Homo sapiens: one gene and its partners. The protein of the gene in region 2 interacts with the protein of the main gene of each other region in a biochemical or structural test. Each region holds a gene or a part of one and is shown on either strand. Other genes may lie near its edges.

Region 1 (4,484 bases), on a different chromosome or scaffold from region 2:
AGCTGGTCTCAAACTGCCGGCCTCAAGCGATCCCTCAACCTCCCAAAATGTTGGGATTACAGGCATGAGCCACCATGCCCAGCCAAGATAGTTTAAACAGCCCTGGCCTCAACTTCTTCACTCTGTCTGTGGGTCTACTAGGAGGGGAGATGCTACTAGGCTCCTCCCATCAGTCTAGGTTGCCCTTGAAAACCTTGATCCCCTGAGCCTCTGCCCCTCTCCACCTACAAGCCTCACCTGCACGGTCATGAGAAGAGACCACCAGTGGCTGACTCCAGGGTCCACAGCCAACTGCATTGGAGACGCACACACGTACGATCAGGTCCTTTTGGGGATCCCAGCCTGTCAAATTGGCCCTGGTCCCCTCCACTGTCAGCTCATCCTGCAGCCAGGAAAAGCCCCCACCCCATAGTGAGCCTGGGGAGAAGGCCTCCAGCTGGGGCCTGAGGACAGAAAAAGGTCCAGCTGGGAACATGGGAGTATAGGGGCACTGTGGGTTCAGGGGCTGCAGGAACACAACCTTCTGGGAGTAATCACATTCCTGTTCCCGGCTGCAGGGGCCTCTCCAGAACACAAACAAGGCTCAGTCCCGGAATGCACAGGTGGGGGATGGGAGCGAACTGAGCTGGGGACAAAGCCTTATCTGTGCCCTCCCCCAGCTCAAGCAGGAATGTGCTTCCTGCTTTATTTACAAAGTGCACACAGGATGCAACCCTAACAGGAGACATAATCCTTTGAGAAGTGGAGCTTGCAGAGGAGGGTGAGGAGGAAAGGATTCCCTGGGGCTGCGGGAGACCCAGGCCCACCAAAGACAATCATTTTGAAATTCTTAAAGGCCTTAGAACCCTGAAGGCTTATACTCCAGGAGAGTGGAGAGAGGGGAGGGTTCTGTCTTACCTGGGTTCCATTGTCTTGAACCCAGGACAGTTTGTAGGGTCCCAGGGGGCCTTCCAAAGGGGCCTCGGGGATCACTTCTTCCCACTCCAAGATGAGGCCTGAATCTGTGCGGATGGCATGGAGGTTTTGGGGAGCGCTGGCTGGGGCTGCAGCCAAAGAGAGAAGATTGCTAAGACCCCTGCCCTTCCCACCATCATAATTCCATGCAGACCTTTGGAATCAACTCCCAAGAACTAAACAGCTCTGAGAGGCACAAACTGGGGAAGGGTTCACCTCCCAGCTCTGACTGCTCTCACCCACTGTGCTGGGGGAGGGGTAAGCAATGGGCAGGACAGGCAGCACCCCAGCTCGGCAGTGTTGCTCTTCATCACCATGGTTACTGCCTTTCTGCCTCACCCCTTACCACTCCCCTCTCACAGCTATGCCAGCCTCTTTGCAATTGCCAAGCAAGTTCCTGTCATAGGGTCTTTGCACTTGCTGTGCCTTCTTCCGGCAGTGATTTTCCCCCAGATATTTACATGGCTTCTTCTTTATCGTTCAGATCCCAGATCCTTCAGATCTTTATCCTTCAGACCTTTTTAGGGGGGGTTTCCTTAACCACCTGGGGACACTCTTTATCAACCACATTATCTGATCTTTTCCAGTTTGCTTATCTGTTCCACCTACAAGAACTACTTACAAGGTGGTATGTAGTTATATGCAGTAAATGTTTGCCGAATGATGCCTGAACCTCCATCTCTACCAGCACCATTCAGAACTCCAGCCAACACGGCCCCCTTCCCGGCTCCAGCCCTGCCCACCCGCTCTGCTCTATGCATCCCTTACCTAGACCCTTGGTCTGAAAGGGCACCCAGTCAGCATAGGGAGAGGGCCCCAAGGCATTGGCACAGCGCACCCTGAGGCTGTAGTTGGTGGCAGGCACCAGGTCCCGGAGCAGGCAGGTAAAGGGGGGCACAGGGACCACAACAGCCAGGACTTCCCAGCCTCCTGGGGCCTGTGTCACCTACAGAAAAGCAGAAAACTAATGATGTAGGGGAGAGCCTGTGAGAGATGGAAGATGGGATGGGTATAGTTATGGGTGCTTGAATGAATGCTTCCTCTATCAGCAAACACTTGCAACCCACGCCCTCCCATCTGCCCCCACCCCAATAATACACAGGGTTCCACATCTTCATACCTTTGCAAATGCTGTTCCTTTCACTTGGAATGACCTGCTCTTCCTAGCAAAGGCCTACTCATCCTTTAAGACTCAGTGCAAATATCACTTTCTTGGTGAAAGCCTTTCTCAACCACTCCAGAAAACTCTTGTCCTTTTGTACTTGGTACGAAACTCTTAGGGTATACTTACCACTTACTGTGCCTGTTTACATGCCACTCCAAAGTTCTAGAGCTTCTGAAGCTCAGAGAAAACTGGGAGCCTAGGGCACTATGAACCAGCCCTTCATCTTACATTTTGGGGGCCCAGGGCAAGAGTACAAAGAGATCCACGTACTATATGTCTAAATATTTAAACATTATAAATCAGCTAACAAACTATTAAATAGTTTCTCTCTTAATATTTTGACCAATAAACCTTCAAAACAACCTGGGAGATCAGGTTTGCATTTGTAACTCTCCAAATCCCTGGAGTCCCGAGTCAGAATGAGGAGGCACTGGAAGAGCTGGCCTGAAGCCAAGGTCTGCACCATGAGGGGCCTCATGTGCACAGGCGTGGACAATGCTGACTGCATATCCAAGCTCCATTCCCATCCCCCTCACGAATGGCTGCCCCTTGGGCTTAGAGGTGGTCATATCACACTGCGGTCCATCCTTGGGAAGATGGAACAGGGAAAAGGCCCACACAGACCCCAGAAGCAGACTCAGAACCATTAGGGCAAGAGATCCTGAATAGCTATAGTATAGTGTGGCAGTGAGGGGGTCCTTGCCATCTGGATGGGCATATCCTCTTGGCCCTGTAGGCTCTTTGCCCCGGGGAAAGGGGTGTGGCCAAAGGAGGGCCAGAGTAGGATCCTCTTTTTTTTTTTTTTTTTTTTTTTTTTTTTAATAGAGACAGGATCTTGCCCTGTCACTCACTCAGGCTGGAGTGCAGTGGCATGATCTCGGCTCACCGCAGGCTTGACTTCTCAGGCTCAAGTCATCCTCCCACTCTAGCCTCCTGAATAGTTAGAAGTACAGGCGCATGCCACTGTGCCTGGATAATTTTTGTATTTTTTGTAGAGAAAGGGTTTTGCCATGTTGCCCAGGCTGGTCTTGAACCCCCAGGCTCAAGCAATCCTCCCGTCTCCACCTCCCAAAGTGCTGGGATTACAGGCATAAGCCACTGTGCCCAACCTCAGTAGGGTTCTCTAAATGGTGGAGCCCAGAGCAGGGGCCCCTCCTGCCCAGGGGAACTGCCCAGAACAGTTTTGAAAGGTACTCATTAAATGGCCTTTGAGTAAACGGATGAAAATGAGCAAGCCTGCATTGCCTCTTGTTTTTAGTATCACCTTACACAGTTTTTCCACTCTCCAAGGCTTAGGGCCCCTTCTGGTCATCTTGTTCTCTTTGGCTTGAGTGGGGGTTGGGGGGTAAGGTGGAGCATGATAGGGTGAGTATCAGCAAAGGTTTGAGCTTTCACCTAAGTAAGAAAAACTCGTCTGGGTGTGCTGGTTCATGCCTGTAATACCAGCACTTTGGGAGGCTGAGGCAGGTAGATCACTTGAAGTCAGGAGTTTGAGATCAGGCTGGCTAATATGGTGAACTACTAGTCTCTACTAAAAATACAAAAAAAAAAAAAAAAAGTTAGCTGGGCGTGGTGGTGCATGACTGTAATCCTAATCCTAGCTGCTGGGGAGGCTGAGGCAGGAGAATCACTTGAACCCAGGAGGTGGAGGTTGCAGTGAGCCGAGATGGCACCACTGCACTCCAGCCTGGCCAACAGTGAGACCCTGTCTCAAAAAAAAAAAGAAAGAAAGAAAAACCTTCCAGGTACCCCAAATCTGTTCTAGTGATCTGCTTTCCAACCTTATGAATGCATGAGTTTGAGCCAATCTGCAAAGTCACTTAGTTGCCAGAGCACCCCATGATAAGAGACAGTGGCCTGTGTTCTTCCTGCTAAGGAGCAGAGCCTGAAAAGAGCTGCAGACCAAGCCCCCAGGAGCTGGCTAGTGAGTGTGATATCCCTGTCAACAAAGTGCTGGCCATGCAGCCAGAACGAGCATGGCCCGGCCCGGAGAGCCTACCTGAACTGTACAGGACTGTAGCAGAGCTCGGCCATCAGCACCTGGCATCCAGGCCACACTAGCGTTGCTGCTGGAAAGCTTTGTCACGGTGATGTTGAAGGGGGCTGCAGGCAGTGCTGTGGACGGGGACTCAGAATCAGTGCCCAGTAGGGATATGAGCAGAGGCAGCAGGAGGCATGGGAGTCAAGCCTTGAGTCTCTCTGAGGGTCCAGGGCATCCCCAACCTAAAGACGGCTACTCAGCACTCCCAGGATCACAGTAGTACACAAATAAGCAACCAGTAGGGCACAGCTGCTCACACCTGGGAGAGTGCCTGGGCTGTGGAGAGAGGTTGCCTCTCCCTGCCACGAAGGCCCTGTGTAACTG
Region 2 (5,269 bases):
ACAGAGACTCACAGGTCCCACAAAGCCTAAAATATTCAGTATCTGTCCTTCCAGAAGTTTACTGACCCTGTGCTATGTATACAATCAGGTTTTAAGTGTCAGCCATAAATTTGGATATCAAACGAGGCTGAACCATTCCCAGCCTAAAGACTATTTAAACTAAAATGTGGTTATGTTCTGAGACCTATTTGAGGTATGAAACCATAGAGATTTTGCTTTAGAGAGACTGAGTTGCGTTAATGGAATATTCATGTAATTTTTAGAGCTGGGCAGTTGGCATAAATTCCATTGCAATGCTCCACAATTTGGATAATCCCTCAGCTTTGAGGCAAGTTGCATATAGTTTTATAACATTGTAAGTCATATTTATATTAAACTTCTGCAAAATTATCAGTGAATGCAAATAAGTAATACTTTTCAATTTAACAGAGTTAAATCGGCGTTTAAACCAATCAAATATATAAGATAAAAATTTCACTTCATACTGGTGTTCTGAAAATACTTTCTGTTCTCTTTTAGCTTGTTCCACAGAATTTCAACATATAAAAATATGTATTAGGAAACAACTATAAATCTTCCTATTTAACTGCAAATCTGCATTTTCTCCTTTCTTTTAATATTCTTTATCTTTTATTCCAAGCAAGCCTTGCTGTGGTTGGATTAGATGATTTAAAAGTAAATATAGATATTTAAAACTGCCTTGCAACAGGTAGCCAGGTTCAAAGGTTTATAAAAACACTTCTGCACATTTTGCTAGGGCTTCTAGGGTTGATAGTACGACTCACTCTGAGTTTTTGGGTCTGTGCTGCAACTCCAGTTGGGTGCATCATTGCAATAAATATAGGCACATCACCAAGTGGGCTGCCTACTCCTCCAGCGATGCTGATTCCCAGTGAGTCAGTAGGGCCCTGCCATGGAACAGATATAAAATTTTGGTCAAAGTGATATTTTTCATTGACCTTTTGTTTATTCTTTGGCATGATATCTATAGTCAACTCTGATTTTCTAAGTGTGAGGGGGAAAATGAAGAAGTGCAAGAAAACTGCATTACTTTACTTGACACAGGTGCTTAGCGTGGCTTAGGAAAATAAGCATCTGTTCAGGAAGTAAAATAAATCAAGACATGCTAAATGAAAATCATGTTGTGGAACTGATGAAAAGCAGGTAAACTCATGAAGTGAAAAGACCACACTTTTGGAATCAGAGTCCTGTGTTCAAAGCCACGAAGTCATACTTGCAAATGCTGGAACTTGGAATAAGTCCACTCCACTCAATAAATCATTAGATCTTCATTTACAAAATGGAGACAACAGTGCCTCTCACAGAGGGCTGCAGTGAATATTAAATGACATGATGATGACATGAAGTGTCTATAAGAGTGCTCAGAACAATAGTAAAAGCTCAATAAATCACAGCTGCTTTTACTTTGTCTCTTGTGCATGGCTGTCAAGGGAATCTGTTTCAGAACTAATAAGTATCTGTTGAAGAGAAAGGTTTACTTATAAGAAGTGAGAGGCATGGTATTATTTTGTGTGGGGTCAATTTTATGCTATTTTCAGCAAAACAGAGCATGCAAACAACGATTTTTCAAATGAGGTGCTGTGATCAGGAAATTCATTAAGGACTACATTATGTTATTTCACATGTAATATGTAAGAATACATACTTTTTGAGATGAATACTTTAAAACCGTAAGAAAGTTAACAAGAAAACACATATGAAGATGTCTCTTAAAACGCCAGGGTTTATATTGTTTTCTCTCCCCAAGTTACCTTTTTCATTTCGACTGTTCTTAATCCCTGTATTTCAGATGCCACTGTAAAGGCAAAAAAGATAAAATAGGGTTATTTTATGTTCATTCACTTTTTATGTTCGTTAAAATATCTAAAGCTGGATGGGACTAAATGATAACCTAGGTTTCTTTTTTTAAGGGGGTGCTCAAAGCTGCTAGTACACATGATTAGATCTGTCTTACACAGAACTATTTATTTTTCCAGTTGGAAAAACGTGTATACCATCCCATTCTTCCTTCTCATTTTAAGTGTTGATTATATAACTATGTAATCCACTTTGAATGAGTCAAGGGCAGAATGTGTTTTGCATAGAAAGGCACATGTGCACGGCTGAGAGGAATAAAGTCATGGATGCATTAAAAAAATTCACAAATTTAAGTGCCTAAATTTCTAGAATATTAGTCATACTGCAAACAGAGATTGCCATATTGTTAGTTTCTTCAATTTGAACAACTCTCAACCAATGCACCAAGCCAAAAATCCCTCTGCAGCATGATTTCACGTAATTAAAACACAGGAGGATCACATTAATTTTCTCAAATTTTTGCAATCTTCATGGAAAAAGAAGGCTTCACTTAATGGCATCTTCTGATTTACTGGTGTTACATTAAACACAGAAAAGGAATAAAATCAAAAACACCAATCTGCTTAGTAAGAAAAAAAAATTACAGAATCCTGATTATAATGTTTAGTGTATCTTGTAGGGTAAACATCAAATGGGAAAAGCTGCCATAGGCAGAACTTCATGTTGTTCAGACTTTTTGCTAACACGTGTTTTTGTACCTATATTTGGATATGGGATGATTTGGGGGAAAAGAAAGCTCAGAGGTAAACAAGACAAAAAAATCAGTGTTGACAGCCAAATTCAAACCATGTTTAAAATACTGAACCAATCTTACATGCATTCTTCTTTGAGCTACTTTCCAGTGACTCAGATGTACTGGATCCAGAGAGTGGAAAAGTGAAAGATGACAGGCTGCCTTCACTCACCTACAAATATACAACAATTATTTCAGAAGGTTTTGCAAGTAACATACTCCCTAAATACCACTTATTTCAGAATTTAATCTAGAGACAGATACCTGTTAAGCAACAGTGGCATTTGATAATTTGATGAGCAATTTAAACACAGTTCCTACTGATTTTTTTTCTTTTAAACAGAGAATGTGTCTAGTGACATAAATAAATTGAAGCTAAAAGGGTAGATGAAATTGATTCCAATCTACCTAAAATTTTAGTGGATAGTCATAATCTCATTCAAACTAATCTTCTTTAAATTTAAACTGATGTTGTAGGAAGACTAGGACTTAAACAAAAACTGTAGAATTAGGGCCAGCTAATAGGAAACTCATGGTAGTAATTTAGAAAGTTAGTATGGGGTCTTTAAGGACAGACTGATGAAAATGGGTTTCCATCATCAGTAGACAACACTGAGGAGAAGGTCAAGAGGTCTTGTCAAGAGTCTTGAAATATTTAACATCATATTTTTATACATGGTGCTGAGTATCTATAGTTCACTTATATGGGACTTTTCAGTTGAATATTGATTGATGTTGCTATAAAATATTTTTAAAATATGTTATCTTGGGGCCAGGTACGGTGGCTCATGCCTGTAATCCCAACACTTTGGGAGGCTGAGGCGGGTGGATCACGAGGTCAGGCGTTTGAGACCAGCCTGGCTGACATGGCGAAACCCCATCTCTAATAAAAATACAAAAATTAGCCAGGCATGGTGGTGCACGCCTGTAGTCCCAGCTACTCGGGAAGTAGAGACAGAAGAATCTACTTCGCCCGGGAGGCGAAGGTTGCAGTGAGCTGAGATTGTGCCACTGCACTCCAGCCTGGGTGACAGAGCGAGACTCTGTCTCAAAATAAATAAATAAATAAATAAAATAAATAAAATAATAAAAAATTTGTTATCTTGGTAGGCTTTACAATTAGGTAGTTACCTTTTGAGATTATGGAAAATGAATCATGTCAAAAAAGAATGCTTGAAATCAATTTCCTTAGAATGACTTACAAACTACTCAACAGCCACACCTTGTTTACCTGGCTATTCTGATTCCTTGTTCTTCTCTGTCTCAAACTCTGCACCTCAGTCACTATCCCACGCTGCCAGGGGACCAGACCTTGTACACAGACCCACAGTCAGGGCCATCTATGTGTCCTCTTGGCATGCCGATTGCATCGCCCTGATGAACTCCACAGCTACCCACCTGGCTGCTTTGAGATGGCCTCCTCTCTGAATGGAATGGACCAGCTTTGATTCTTCCAACTTCCAAGGTTACTGTGCCTAGGGAACACTGGGGGTGGGCATGGGGGGTGTTTTATGGAAATGTTTAAATAAAATGCTATAATCATCTTTAGGAATACATTTTACTCTTCAAGACTTTTTTGAAAGGCATCTTCCTTTTGGAATTTCTATAAGCAAGGATACCTCCAATCCCTTGTGGAAAATGGCTTTTTATAAAACATTCAAACTAATAAAAATAATCAGCAGCAGCAACACCAAGTGTTTACCTTATCACCTCATGATTTCTATGGAGACTACTTGTACCAAAAAGAAATGGAGAATTGAGCAATTATCTCATGAAACACACTAATTTTGATAGGACAAACAAGCTGAATAACTGAGGGTTTAAAAAACAAAGCGACTGTAATCCCACCACTTTGGGAGGCCGAGGCGGGTGGATCACGAGGTCAGGAGATCAAGACCATCCTGGCTAACATGGTGAAACCCTGTCTCTACTAAAAATACAAAAAAATAGCTGGGCGTGGTGGCAGGCGCCTGTAGTCCCAGCTACTCAGGAGGCTGAGGCAGAAGAATGGCGTGAACCTGGGAGGCGGAGCTTGCAGTGAGCCAAGATCATGCCACTGCACTCCACCTGGGTGACAGAGCGAGACTTGAGACTCCACCTCAAAAAAAAAAAAAAAAAAAAAAAGCGAACACAATAAAACCACCACTACCACCACCTCAGCAACTTGTTTTGCCCTCAGTGGAAGAGGTACTTAGATAATTGGGTAAATTCTCTATCACTACACTGTGCCTGAATAGACTTATGATATAAAATTTAGATAAATACTGCTATCAACACAAAACATGAACTGAAGACAATCTTTCTTGCACCCCTTTACAAATAAACCATAGGCATGCAAGAAATGCCGCACAGTCTAATATGAAGTAGCACAAGAAGGTGTTTGAGATCCTGTTTTGGAGTCACTGGATTAAATCCAGACTATGTGATTTATTAGCTGTGTGACTGTAATGGATGTTTAACCTTAATAAATCTTTTACTCTGAATTTTAAAAATGTACATCATTATAGGTTGTTGAGATAAATAAACCATGAACAATGCTTATGACAGTGTCTAGAATGGAGTAAGATTAATATAAATATTGGGCACTGATATTATTATTCAGTGATGAGAGTACAAAGGGATGTGTTATTCTGAAGATGTTGATCATGAATCATACTC
Region 3 (4,960 bases), about 20 Mb from region 2:
CTTAAGACAGAACAATTGCTATACTTAAGAAAGAATTGCAGAGTTGGAATTGAAATACACAAAACATATATGCCCAAATTTTTGTCCTCAATTCCCCTTTTGGGAGAAAGTGACTAAGACTATATGATCACTTAAAATGATCATTCTTTGAAGGATACAAAATACTTCTGATCTTCAAGATGAACTCTATCACCATTCCTATATATAATTCATATTTTTCTTCACCGGGGATCAAATGGCATTCTGCTTGATAGCCTTCTTATCTATTGCAGTTGAGCAAGTGAAATAGAAAGCACATTTTAGGATATCATTGTGATTTGTTGTTTTCCTCAGCAGCAAAAATGTATGAAATAAAGAGACTTTTATCATGTAATGTTCACTGATCAGGTGAGCTTAATAAAATCTAGGCTTCAGTTAAATTTAGTAGATGAGTTCTTGTTTCACTGGCATTTACAGTCTGTGAGAGGAGTTGAACAAATGTACAAATAATGACACTTCCAAAGGTTTAACCATTGCATTTCATACAAATTATGTGCAATGTTCAAGGCTAATGTGTAGACTTTATAGTTTTCAGATTTTAAAAGGTATGTAGGAATGGTAATTATCAGTACATGTCTGCCAATGTTAAAGACTTGGATATATATGTAAAATTCATTTTGTCTTGATGAAAACAAATTCCAATCTATGAAAGTATCATTTCAAATAATGTTGCACCTGGTAAGGAAATAATACATGAATGATAGTAAATGTTTAGAAAAAACCCATTTCAGATAAAGATGCAATAAATGGATTTAAACGAAGAGTTTAAGAAGTAACATAGCCATCTAAAAATGTTAACTTTTCACATAGCTGCTCACACTTATTTTACTTTATTAGAGACCATGATCTTGTCAGACAATAATGCCACAAGACTCAGTTACATAATCCAACTCTCTTTAACTACCCTTTTCCCAAAAACCATCCCATCTAAGGAGGGTTTAACTCTTGTATCTTGATTTTTTTTTCTTTCAGCAAATACCAAGTGTGATAAGCTTTTAACCAGGCAAAAATTACTTTATATAACGGATCATTAATTTTATTTTCAACTTATTCAAACATAAAGCAGCTCAGTTTCCCTGTGGTCAGCTCATGCATCATTTGATGCCTCACATCTGCAGCCCACTCTAGATTTATCTTGCTCTCAGCTGGTTCTGGATAGCACTTTTTGGGTTATTTTACAAAACATTTAACATTGTGTAAATTGTTAAGAAGCAACTGGAGTAGCTTCCTTTCCTACCCACTGCCTCTTCCAGTGTCCTTAACCCTCATCGCCCTTCCCTAAAATGTGTCCCCAACATGCCTATTTACATGACTCTCGGGTACCAGAGGTTATCACACCCATCACATACCAGGTCAATTTCTAACAGTGTGAAGGCTCTCCAAGCAGAGCAATTTGCTTCCACGGGGAGCTGGGCTTAGTCATATTCTATCAATCCAGCCACCTTTGTAGGCAGAGATTAGACGATGGTCTCGTGGTCCCACCTGCCTTGTATCTGATTGATATAACAACAGTATCTGTCATACGGGCTGTTCTGCTTGTAGGAGCAAACGATGATACTGTCCTGGGGCACAAAGAAGATGCTATCCTCAGGCTCAGGGCACTCAGATCTGTCCCTTGCTGAGCACTTGACGTCCAAGGCACTGTAGGTGAGGGAACTGCCCGAGGGGCAGTAGCCGTCCAGGTATCTGGACGTCTCCTCCTGATGCCCATTCTGGACGAGGCTCTGGCATTCTCCTTCCTCCGTGGGTGTGGGGCTGTTGATGGAGCTGGCCACGGACACCTCACCCTGGCTTTGTGGGGGAGGCTTCCCCCTGAGGCCCGCCTTCTTAGCCAGCTCATCTGAGCTCCCCTTGCCGGATTCTAGGTCTGAAGGGGTCCTCAGCAGCTCTACCACCTCCTTGTCTTTGGGTTTCCGGAAGCAGGGCAATTTGCGGACCCACAGCAGCTCGTTCTCTGGCCACTTGGTGCATCCCTCGGTTTTCCTGGCCAGGGCAATGGCTGCGATGCCTGGTAGGCAGATGGCTGGCCCGATGGCCAGGAGGGGGATGTTTCCCAAAGTCTCCCCTTTCATCCCAGAGACGGTGAACATGAAACCAAAGACGAGGAAGACACTGACCAGGGCCACCACCAGCCCAGTCCTCGGGTTAATGTCATCAGGCCGCATGTTTCACTCCATCCAGGTTGGGGGCTGCTTGCTGACCAGGGAGCAGCGTTCCTCTATTCTGTCAGAGATGAAACCACAGTGCGTTAAAAAAAAATCCAAGTCAAGCTCCCACCCATCAACTCTTGTCTTTCTCTTGCCCTTTGTCTCCGACTTGCTTCTTGACTTTCAGTCTTGATCTCTGTCTCTGTATCTCTCTTGCAATCTCTCTATCTCTCTCTCTGCGTTTCTCTTGCAATCTCTCCCTGTTTCTATTTCTACTCTTTCTCTCCGTCCCCTCTCCCTCCCTCCCTTTCTTGTGCCCTCCCTCTCTTCCTCTCACTATTGCAACCTCCGTCTCTCTCTCATATCAACACGCTCCGGCTGGGGTCAACGAGGTACCTGAGGTTTCCTGCCCTCTCCAGGAAGTAGGGAAAGAAGCCAGGCTGTCTCCTCAGAAGCCCCCACAGCAGCTGCCCCCTCGGCTCGCTCCCTTGGTTCTGGGAGGAAAGCCTGGTTTCCCCCACGGACTCTGCATCGGGGAGGTGGAACCTGGGAGAGCGGCTCTCCCAGCAGTGCCCGTCGGTCCCGGTGCTGTGCAAGCGGAGCCCGGCGCCAGCTCAGCGCGCAGAGCGCGGGGCGCGGGAGGAGGAGGGAGCACTGAGTCTGGGAAAGAGGGGACGCGGCGCGAGCCTGGCCTTGTTACATCACTGTCAGAGCAGGCTCAGAAACGCAGACAGACGCGCGGGGGCGCGAGGGGGTCAGCCCCAGAGGGAGGCCACCCGGCGGCAGGCGCTGCCCGGGGTCTCGTCGGGGCTGCTGGGAGCGGCCGGGGTTTGTGCCGCCGCCGTTCCGGAGGCTGAGCAGGGCGACCTGACCCGCTTCCGTGCCCGGGAAGGGTCTGGGGCGCGAGGCTGCCAGTGGCCGGAGTCGGAAACCAGGGTCGGTTTGCCCACGGGGCAGCCGTTGCAATATCCGAGCTCGGGCTCCCAGTCCGGGATCCGAGGAGTTAGGTGCCAGCTGGAGATGTCCCTCCGGGACCCGCACCCTTCTCCAGTTACAAATCCGGGTGACTGACGGCAGGCCCAGGGGCTCCCCGACCGCCCTTCTCTCAACCCCTCGACTCGGGGCGCGGGGGGGTGTGTGTCCCTCGGGGAGCCGGTGCCCGAGGACTGCTTTGGTCCCGGCTCTGGGCGGTGGCGGCGCGCGAAAGCGCTCTTGCAGCGGAGCGACTGCGCCGCGGGAGCGCACAGAACCAGCGCCCAGGCGGAGTGGGTTAGTGGTGAGGGGTGGGTGCCAGGCTAGTCCGGGCCTTGGGGGAGTCCCCGGAGTCCCCGTGGCTTTCCAGCTCCAGGCTCGGGAGAGGGTGACCTTGGAGCCGGGATTTCACTTCTACAGCGCTGTGGTGCCGGGGGGACAGGGAGAAGGGCTCCCTGGCCCCCAGTTCACGAGGAGAAGGGGCCTTGACCGGTCAGGACCACCACCCTACGACGCCGCTCAGCTCTGGGCGATTCTCTCCTCCCTTGCTGAAGCAGGCATTGAGAGCCTGCGTTCCTCCCGCTCTGGTAGGCAGGGGCAGATGGATTCCTCTGGCCCCGGGGGGCAAGACTGGCTTTGGCTGTGATTCTTCAACAGGGCTGCCCATTTAGGATAGAGGAGGGCGGTGGAGAACAGGTTGATGAGCGGTACATGCTTTCATGTCAAGACACTGATTTACTGGAAAGAATTTTCACATCCAGGCCTTCCCCAGTTAAACTAGCTGTATATTCCTGGGCAAGTGACTTAACCTCTCTGAGAATCAGTCGTCCTATCTGTAAAATGAGATTAATACCAAATATATGAGGAAACATTGTGAGGATTAAATAAACGTAAAGTTCCTAGCACAATGCTTGGTACATAGTCTGTGTACAAAAATTACACACACATGCACACACGTACACATGTATATGTATATATATTTGTCATCATAATTAGTGTCTTCATCATGTATGACAGGAGCCAAACAAATCATAAAGGCTGTGAGACTAAGGACTTTTTATCCACTAGGCAATGAAGAACGCTTGATGTATTTTAAGCAAAGATCAATACAAAAACATTCCAGTTTGACTGAAAGGGGCGGCAGGTGAGAGCATAGGTTGGAGCTGGTAAGTCTGGAAGCCGGGAGTCTTGTTCAGTAAGCTGAGAAGTTCAGTAAGCCGGGCAAGACATGATGTGGCCTTAACAATGTCGGGCTGGTAGAGGAGTTGGAAGGAAGCAGATCTGAGGGTATTTAAGGGTTGAGTGAAGTGTCTTGGAGCACAGTGAAGTGAGATGAAGGGAGGAGCCAAGGTCAACTCCCAACTTTCTCACTTTCAAAGGGGTGGATCAGGAAGCAGATCCTTCTCATTTTCCTCTCCATCATCTATTTTGTATCTTTTGTACTCATGACCATTAGACAGCTGCTGCACCTTTAGGCATAGAATCATTTAGGAGGGAAGAAAGGAGAAAATGCAAAGGGTAAAAGTGAGGTGCCAGTTCTTTGGCCACTTGTATGAGGACAATAATAATTTTCCTGGCAGCCCCCCCAAGTAGATAGGCATCTGCCTGTAATTGACCAGAGATGGATGAGCTTTGGGATACAAAGGTACCTGGGAAATTGTTGTTTATTTATTTACCAGATCCACTGATGGTCTGAAAAAAGGGTTTTGTTTAAAAGGAGCAGCATACTGCTCCTTTTAAATACTGGGGAAGCAGCTCGCTACGTGTGTTACAATTATTGAAAAGTTTTCCCTTCTTAAAAC
Region 4 (4,484 bases), on a different chromosome or scaffold from region 2:
GCGTCCGGATGCCCTTGGCCCCGCGGATCAGCCGCAGGACACGCCCAATCCGCGCCAGGCGGATCACACGGAACAGCGTGGGTGACACGAAGTACTTCTGGATCAGGTCAGAGAGGGCAAGGCCTGCGGGGAGAAGCTAGTGAGGACGCTGCCACTGGGGAGGGGGGCCGGCACAGGGTGTGGGGAGCATGCGGGGCTCAGGGGGCCCGGCCTGGTGTGCTCTGCTCAAGTCTCAGAGCACAGCCCAGATGACTGACAGGTGAGGCTGGGCTCTCCCACGGGTCTTGGGGCCAGGGGCTGCAGCTTTGTCTTGATGGAACTGGAGGTGGGATACCCTGAAGTGGGGGAGTGTAAGGCCCATTCCCAAGGCTGTTTGCAAATGCCACTGGTGTGTGTGTGTGTGTGTGTGTGTGTGTGTGTGTGTGAAAGAGACAGAGAGAGAGAGACAGAGAGAGAGGGAGACAGAACAGCTGCGTGACTCTGGGTCTCCACTTCACTTGTTTGTGCCTCAATTTCCTTACCTGTAAAATGGGAACAACAGTTCCTGATCATGACATTGTTATGAACAACAGGTGAGATAACACCTGTCAAGCGCACAGCACAGTTGATAATAAATGGCAGCTACTTTCTATCATAAGCACACGCATGACTGTGCACTTCTCAGTGCACACAGACATGGAACCATCTTTTACACTTTTCGCTCAGTATGTGGGCACCTGAGTGCACGTCTTCTGGTCAGTTGTGTGTCCTGAGGTGCATCCATGTGTGCGCGGGTGACGATCTGCCTGTGTGCACACCATGTGCCTTTGTGCATTGAGAGTGAATGGCAGGCACGCACAGGCATGTGTCTGGGTGAGCGTGTGAGGGTGCAGGGGCAGGTGTGTCCGTGTGAGGATGGGTCTTCCCGAGTGCCTCAGCTCAGTGCTGCCCTGCCGGTCCAGCCCGCCCCGCTCACCCACAATGGACAGGATGACGACCACGAAGTCAAAGATGTTCCAGCCAACGGTGAAGTAGTACTGGCGCAGGGCGAGCATCTTGAGCACGCACTCCCCTGTGAAGATGATGATGAAGATCATGTTGATGTTGTACAGGATGTCCACCTTGAGCTGGCTCTGGTTGTCTGTCTCCACCATCATGGTGACCATGTTGAGGCAGATGAGGATCATGATGGTGATGTCGAAGGCCTGCTTCGTCACGAGGTCATACACCATGCCCTGGATCTTGTTCTGCAGCATGGGTGGGAGTGGATGTGGAGGAGTTGGGGTGGCCAGGCCCAGACAGGACATGGACAGGCAGGAGGCACAGGATGGCACCACAGCATGACAGAGATGACAGAGATGACAGAGAGAGAGAGAGAGAGAGAGAGAAAGGAGGTGTTGGGGGTTGTGGTGGAGTCAGCCAGGGGAGGAGGGGTGACCCATCAGATCATGACAGGTCTGGGACCAGGTCATTTTATGGGGTTCATGGTCCTCCCTTCAAGATCCCCCAGATGCTCCTCCCCTTTCTTCCAAAGTCATTGCTCCTGGGTAGGGTGTCTGGACATCCTCCTCCTTCCACTTGTGGGAGCCCTTGCCCCAGGGGCCACTGGGGTCCCAGGTGGGAGGTAGGTGGGCACTGAGGAGCTTCGTGGGACCAAGTGAGGGTAAAGCACTCACTAGAGTTTCATGGACAGCCTCTGTGCATATGGTGTCTCTGTGGCACTACAAAGAGGCGTCCCTCCCTGCAGGTAGACCAAGTCCCCTGCCCCTGGGGTGGGCCTAACCTCACCCAGGGACACAGCCTGGTGGGTGGAAGGCAGGAAACCTTTTACCCCCATCAGTCCCCTAGGCAGGAGCCTGGCAGCACACACAGGACAGGGGGCCCAGAGGTCTGTACCTGGGGCCGGGGAATTGGCTTCTGAGGCTTCTTGGAGCCAAGCTTCTTCATGGCGTTATAGTATTTCTTCTGTTCCTCCGTCATAAAGATGTCTTTCCCCCCTAAGTATAGTGGGATAGGGCTTGTCAGGTTGAGGTGCAGTTCCCCTTCCTGCCTCCAGGACCACCCCCACCTCAGTGGGGCACCTCACCTTTAAGGCAGCCCCCGCCCCTGTTGATCAGCCTGGAGGAAGCGGGAGGGTCAGAGATGGAGGGACAAGGGGAGAATGCGGGACCGAGGAGAAGGGAGGGAAGGGGAGTGGGGATCAATGCTGTCTTGCAGCCTGTTTCTGGCTACTTTTCATCAACATCTCGCTGAGCCCTAGAGTAACCCACAAGGCAGGTTGTAGCAGCCTCGTCTTTTTTTTTGTTGTTGAGATGGAGTCTCGCTCTGTCACCAGGCTGGAGTGCAGTGGCGCGATCTTGGCCCACTGCAACCTCCATCTCCTGGGTTTAAGCGATTCTCCTGCCTCAGCCTCCTGAGTAGCTGGGATTACAGATGCCTGCCACCACGCCTGGCTAATTTCTTTTTTTAATTTTTTTTGTATTTTTAGTATAGACAGGGTTTTACCACGTTAGCCAGGGTGGTCTCGAACTCCTGACCTTGTGATCCGCCCGCCTCGGCCTCCCAAAGTGCTGGGATTACAAGCATGAGCCACCGTGCCTGGCCCAGCAGTCTCATTTTACAGATAAGGACACCGAGGTTCATGGAGGCCAAGCCACTTGTTCAAGGTGGCCTGGTGGGACTGGGACCCAAGCTAGCTGCCTGAACCAACAACCTGGTAGGTGCTCAGGCAGCGTTTGTGGGTTTGTGCAATGGAGAGTGGACAAAGGAGGCAGGAGGGAGGCCCAGCACCGGGAGGGCCCGAGGGGCTGGGCTGATACTCATCTTCTTCTTCTGCTGGTTGAAGTTGTCAATGATGACGCCAATGAAGAGGTTGAGGGTGAAGAAGGAGCCAAAGATGATGAAGATGACAAAGTAGAGGTACATGTAGAGGTTCACCTCGTACTGCGGCTGCTCCTCCTTCTGTGGGAGCCACAGGGTGGGACGGCGTGGGTTTGCACGCTGGCTTCTCCCTGCCCCCCACAGCCCTGAGGGCAGGACCCATCCACCCCCAGGGCTGCCAAGTCTCGGGGACAGAACGTGCTGCCAAGTCTCCCTCCTGTCTTGAGTCCTCTTCCCTGGCTCGCTCACCAGCCACATCTCAGCGACCCCGACTCACCTCCCGGGAGTCCACGGCTGCATACATGATGTCCATCCAACCCTTGAAGGTGGCCTGAGAGAGTGTGGTTGGGGAGTGAGCCGGGGGGCTGCTCCCTGCTTTCATCATCCATGAGTTTCCCTCCCCCACCCAACCTGGTCCTCCCCTGCCAGAGGCCGCCTGCCAGAGCCCCACTGGGCTAGCATCAAATAAAGACCAGAGAGGTCTAGACACTGCCTGGGGATCCCACAGCATTGGAAGCAGGGTGGGCGGTCCCCTAACCAGGAGTGACACTGGGGTTGGGTACAACGAGAGGACCGGGGTGGGGGGCACCTCCATCCAGGTTCCCGGCAGGGGTGGTGGGTCACACTCACCACCTGCAGGAGGGAGAGGTAGCCCAGACCCACGTTGTCGTAGTTGACCTTGACATTGAGCCAGCGGACCTGGCCTGTGTGCATGAGGCTCTCGCACTCAGACTTGTTGTTGACCTCGGAGATGTCGAACCTCTCAGAGGTGGTGGTGTTGATGCAGTAGTAGAACTTGCCGGCAAACAGGTTGACACCCATGATGCTGAAGATCAGCCAGAAGATGAGGCAGACAAGCAGCACATTCATGATGGAGGGGATGGCGCCTAGGAGGGCGTTCACCACCACCTGGGGGCCAGGGGGTCCATTGCCAGTGCCTCTCCCAGCCTCTGAGAGAGGGCTCCACATCTCTACGCCACCCAGGGGACCAGGCAGAGCTGGGCATTGTCAATTAGGGAGGGCTTCCTAGAGGAGGGCCGACCTGCTGGGCTGTGTGTGTGCAGGTTGGGGGTGGTAAGGGGGAGGGGGAGGGAGCTGCAGGCCTGGTGGTCAAGAGGGCTCTCTGCTTGACTGGAGCCATCAGCCCAGAGTAGGGGTGCTGGGTTTCTCTGGAAGCAGCCTGGTCACAGGTCACCAGGCAGGAGACAAACACTCTTTGCTCAGCCCCCATAGGAAACTCAGCTCACGTGACCCAGCCCCTGCTCATGGGTTTTCAGCCCCAGAGCCCCAGACACAGGCACAGAAAAGAGGGCACCAGGGTCTTTGAAGCAGCAGGAGCTCTGGGACAGAAGCCCCATCCCCACCAGCCCTAGTCACACAGCCCACCTGACCACTGCAGACTGGGCTGGATCTGACACCCCTCTCTTTTTAAGGAGGAGCCATTTCATGACCTCTAGAGTGGGTGGCACAAGCCTGGTGTGCCCAGGGGAGCTCTGTTCCTGGTTGGGGCACTGACCAGCTGCATGGCCACAGGCAGCTTGTTTCCCCTCAACGGGAGGGCTCCCTGGCTCTGGGGGGTCAGAGGGCCCAGCATTCGGCTGGCCTCTTGCAGGGACAGGAAGGGG

The links.
Region 1: the proteins of MPDZ (region 2) and TYRO3 interact in a test that uses a peptide from one of them, tested with the Homo sapiens proteins (one large-scale study listed by IntAct).
Region 3: the proteins of MPDZ (region 2) and TMEM215 interact in a test that uses a peptide from one of them, tested with the Homo sapiens proteins (one large-scale study listed by IntAct).
Region 4: the proteins of MPDZ (region 2) and SCN4A interact in a test that uses a peptide from one of them, tested with the Homo sapiens proteins (one large-scale study listed by IntAct).

The regions. Positions count from the first base shown.
Region 1 is NC_000015.10:41,564,776-41,569,259, reverse strand, and holds part of TYRO3 (tyrosine-protein kinase receptor TYRO3 isoform 1 precursor), read right to left. Parts: intron 4,235-4,484; coding exon 4,119-4,234; intron 1,901-4,118; coding exon 1,723-1,900; intron 1,044-1,722; coding exon 898-1,043; intron 383-897; coding exon 238-382; intron 1-237. UniProt on the Homo sapiens protein: Receptor tyrosine kinase that transduces signals from the extracellular matrix into the cytoplasm by binding to several ligands including TULP1 or GAS6. Regulates many physiological processes including cell survival, migration and differentiation.
Region 2 is NC_000009.12:13,111,239-13,116,507, forward strand, and holds part of MPDZ (multiple PDZ domain protein), read right to left. Parts: intron 4,097-5,269; coding exon 4,010-4,096; intron 2,784-4,009; coding exon 2,693-2,783; intron 1,817-2,692; coding exon 1,773-1,816; intron 909-1,772; coding exon 786-908; intron 1-785. UniProt on the Homo sapiens protein: Member of the NMDAR signaling complex that may play a role in control of AMPAR potentiation and synaptic plasticity in excitatory synapses. Promotes clustering of HT2RC at the cell surface.
Region 3 is NC_000009.12:32,781,428-32,786,387, reverse strand, and holds the start of TMEM215 (transmembrane protein 215), read right to left. Parts: upstream 2,849-4,960; 5' UTR 2,583-2,848; intron 2,263-2,582; 5' UTR 2,205-2,262; coding exon 1,497-2,204; 3' UTR 1-1,496.
Region 4 is NC_000017.11:63,941,871-63,946,354, forward strand, and holds part of SCN4A (sodium channel protein type 4 subunit alpha), read right to left. Parts: intron 3,769-4,484; coding exon 3,490-3,768; intron 3,191-3,489; coding exon 3,137-3,190; intron 2,941-3,136; coding exon 2,803-2,940; intron 1,981-2,802; coding exon 1,876-1,980; intron 1,227-1,875; coding exon 956-1,226; intron 124-955; coding exon 1-123. UniProt on the Homo sapiens protein: Pore-forming subunit of Nav1.4, a voltage-gated sodium (Nav) channel that directly mediates the depolarizing phase of action potentials in excitable membranes.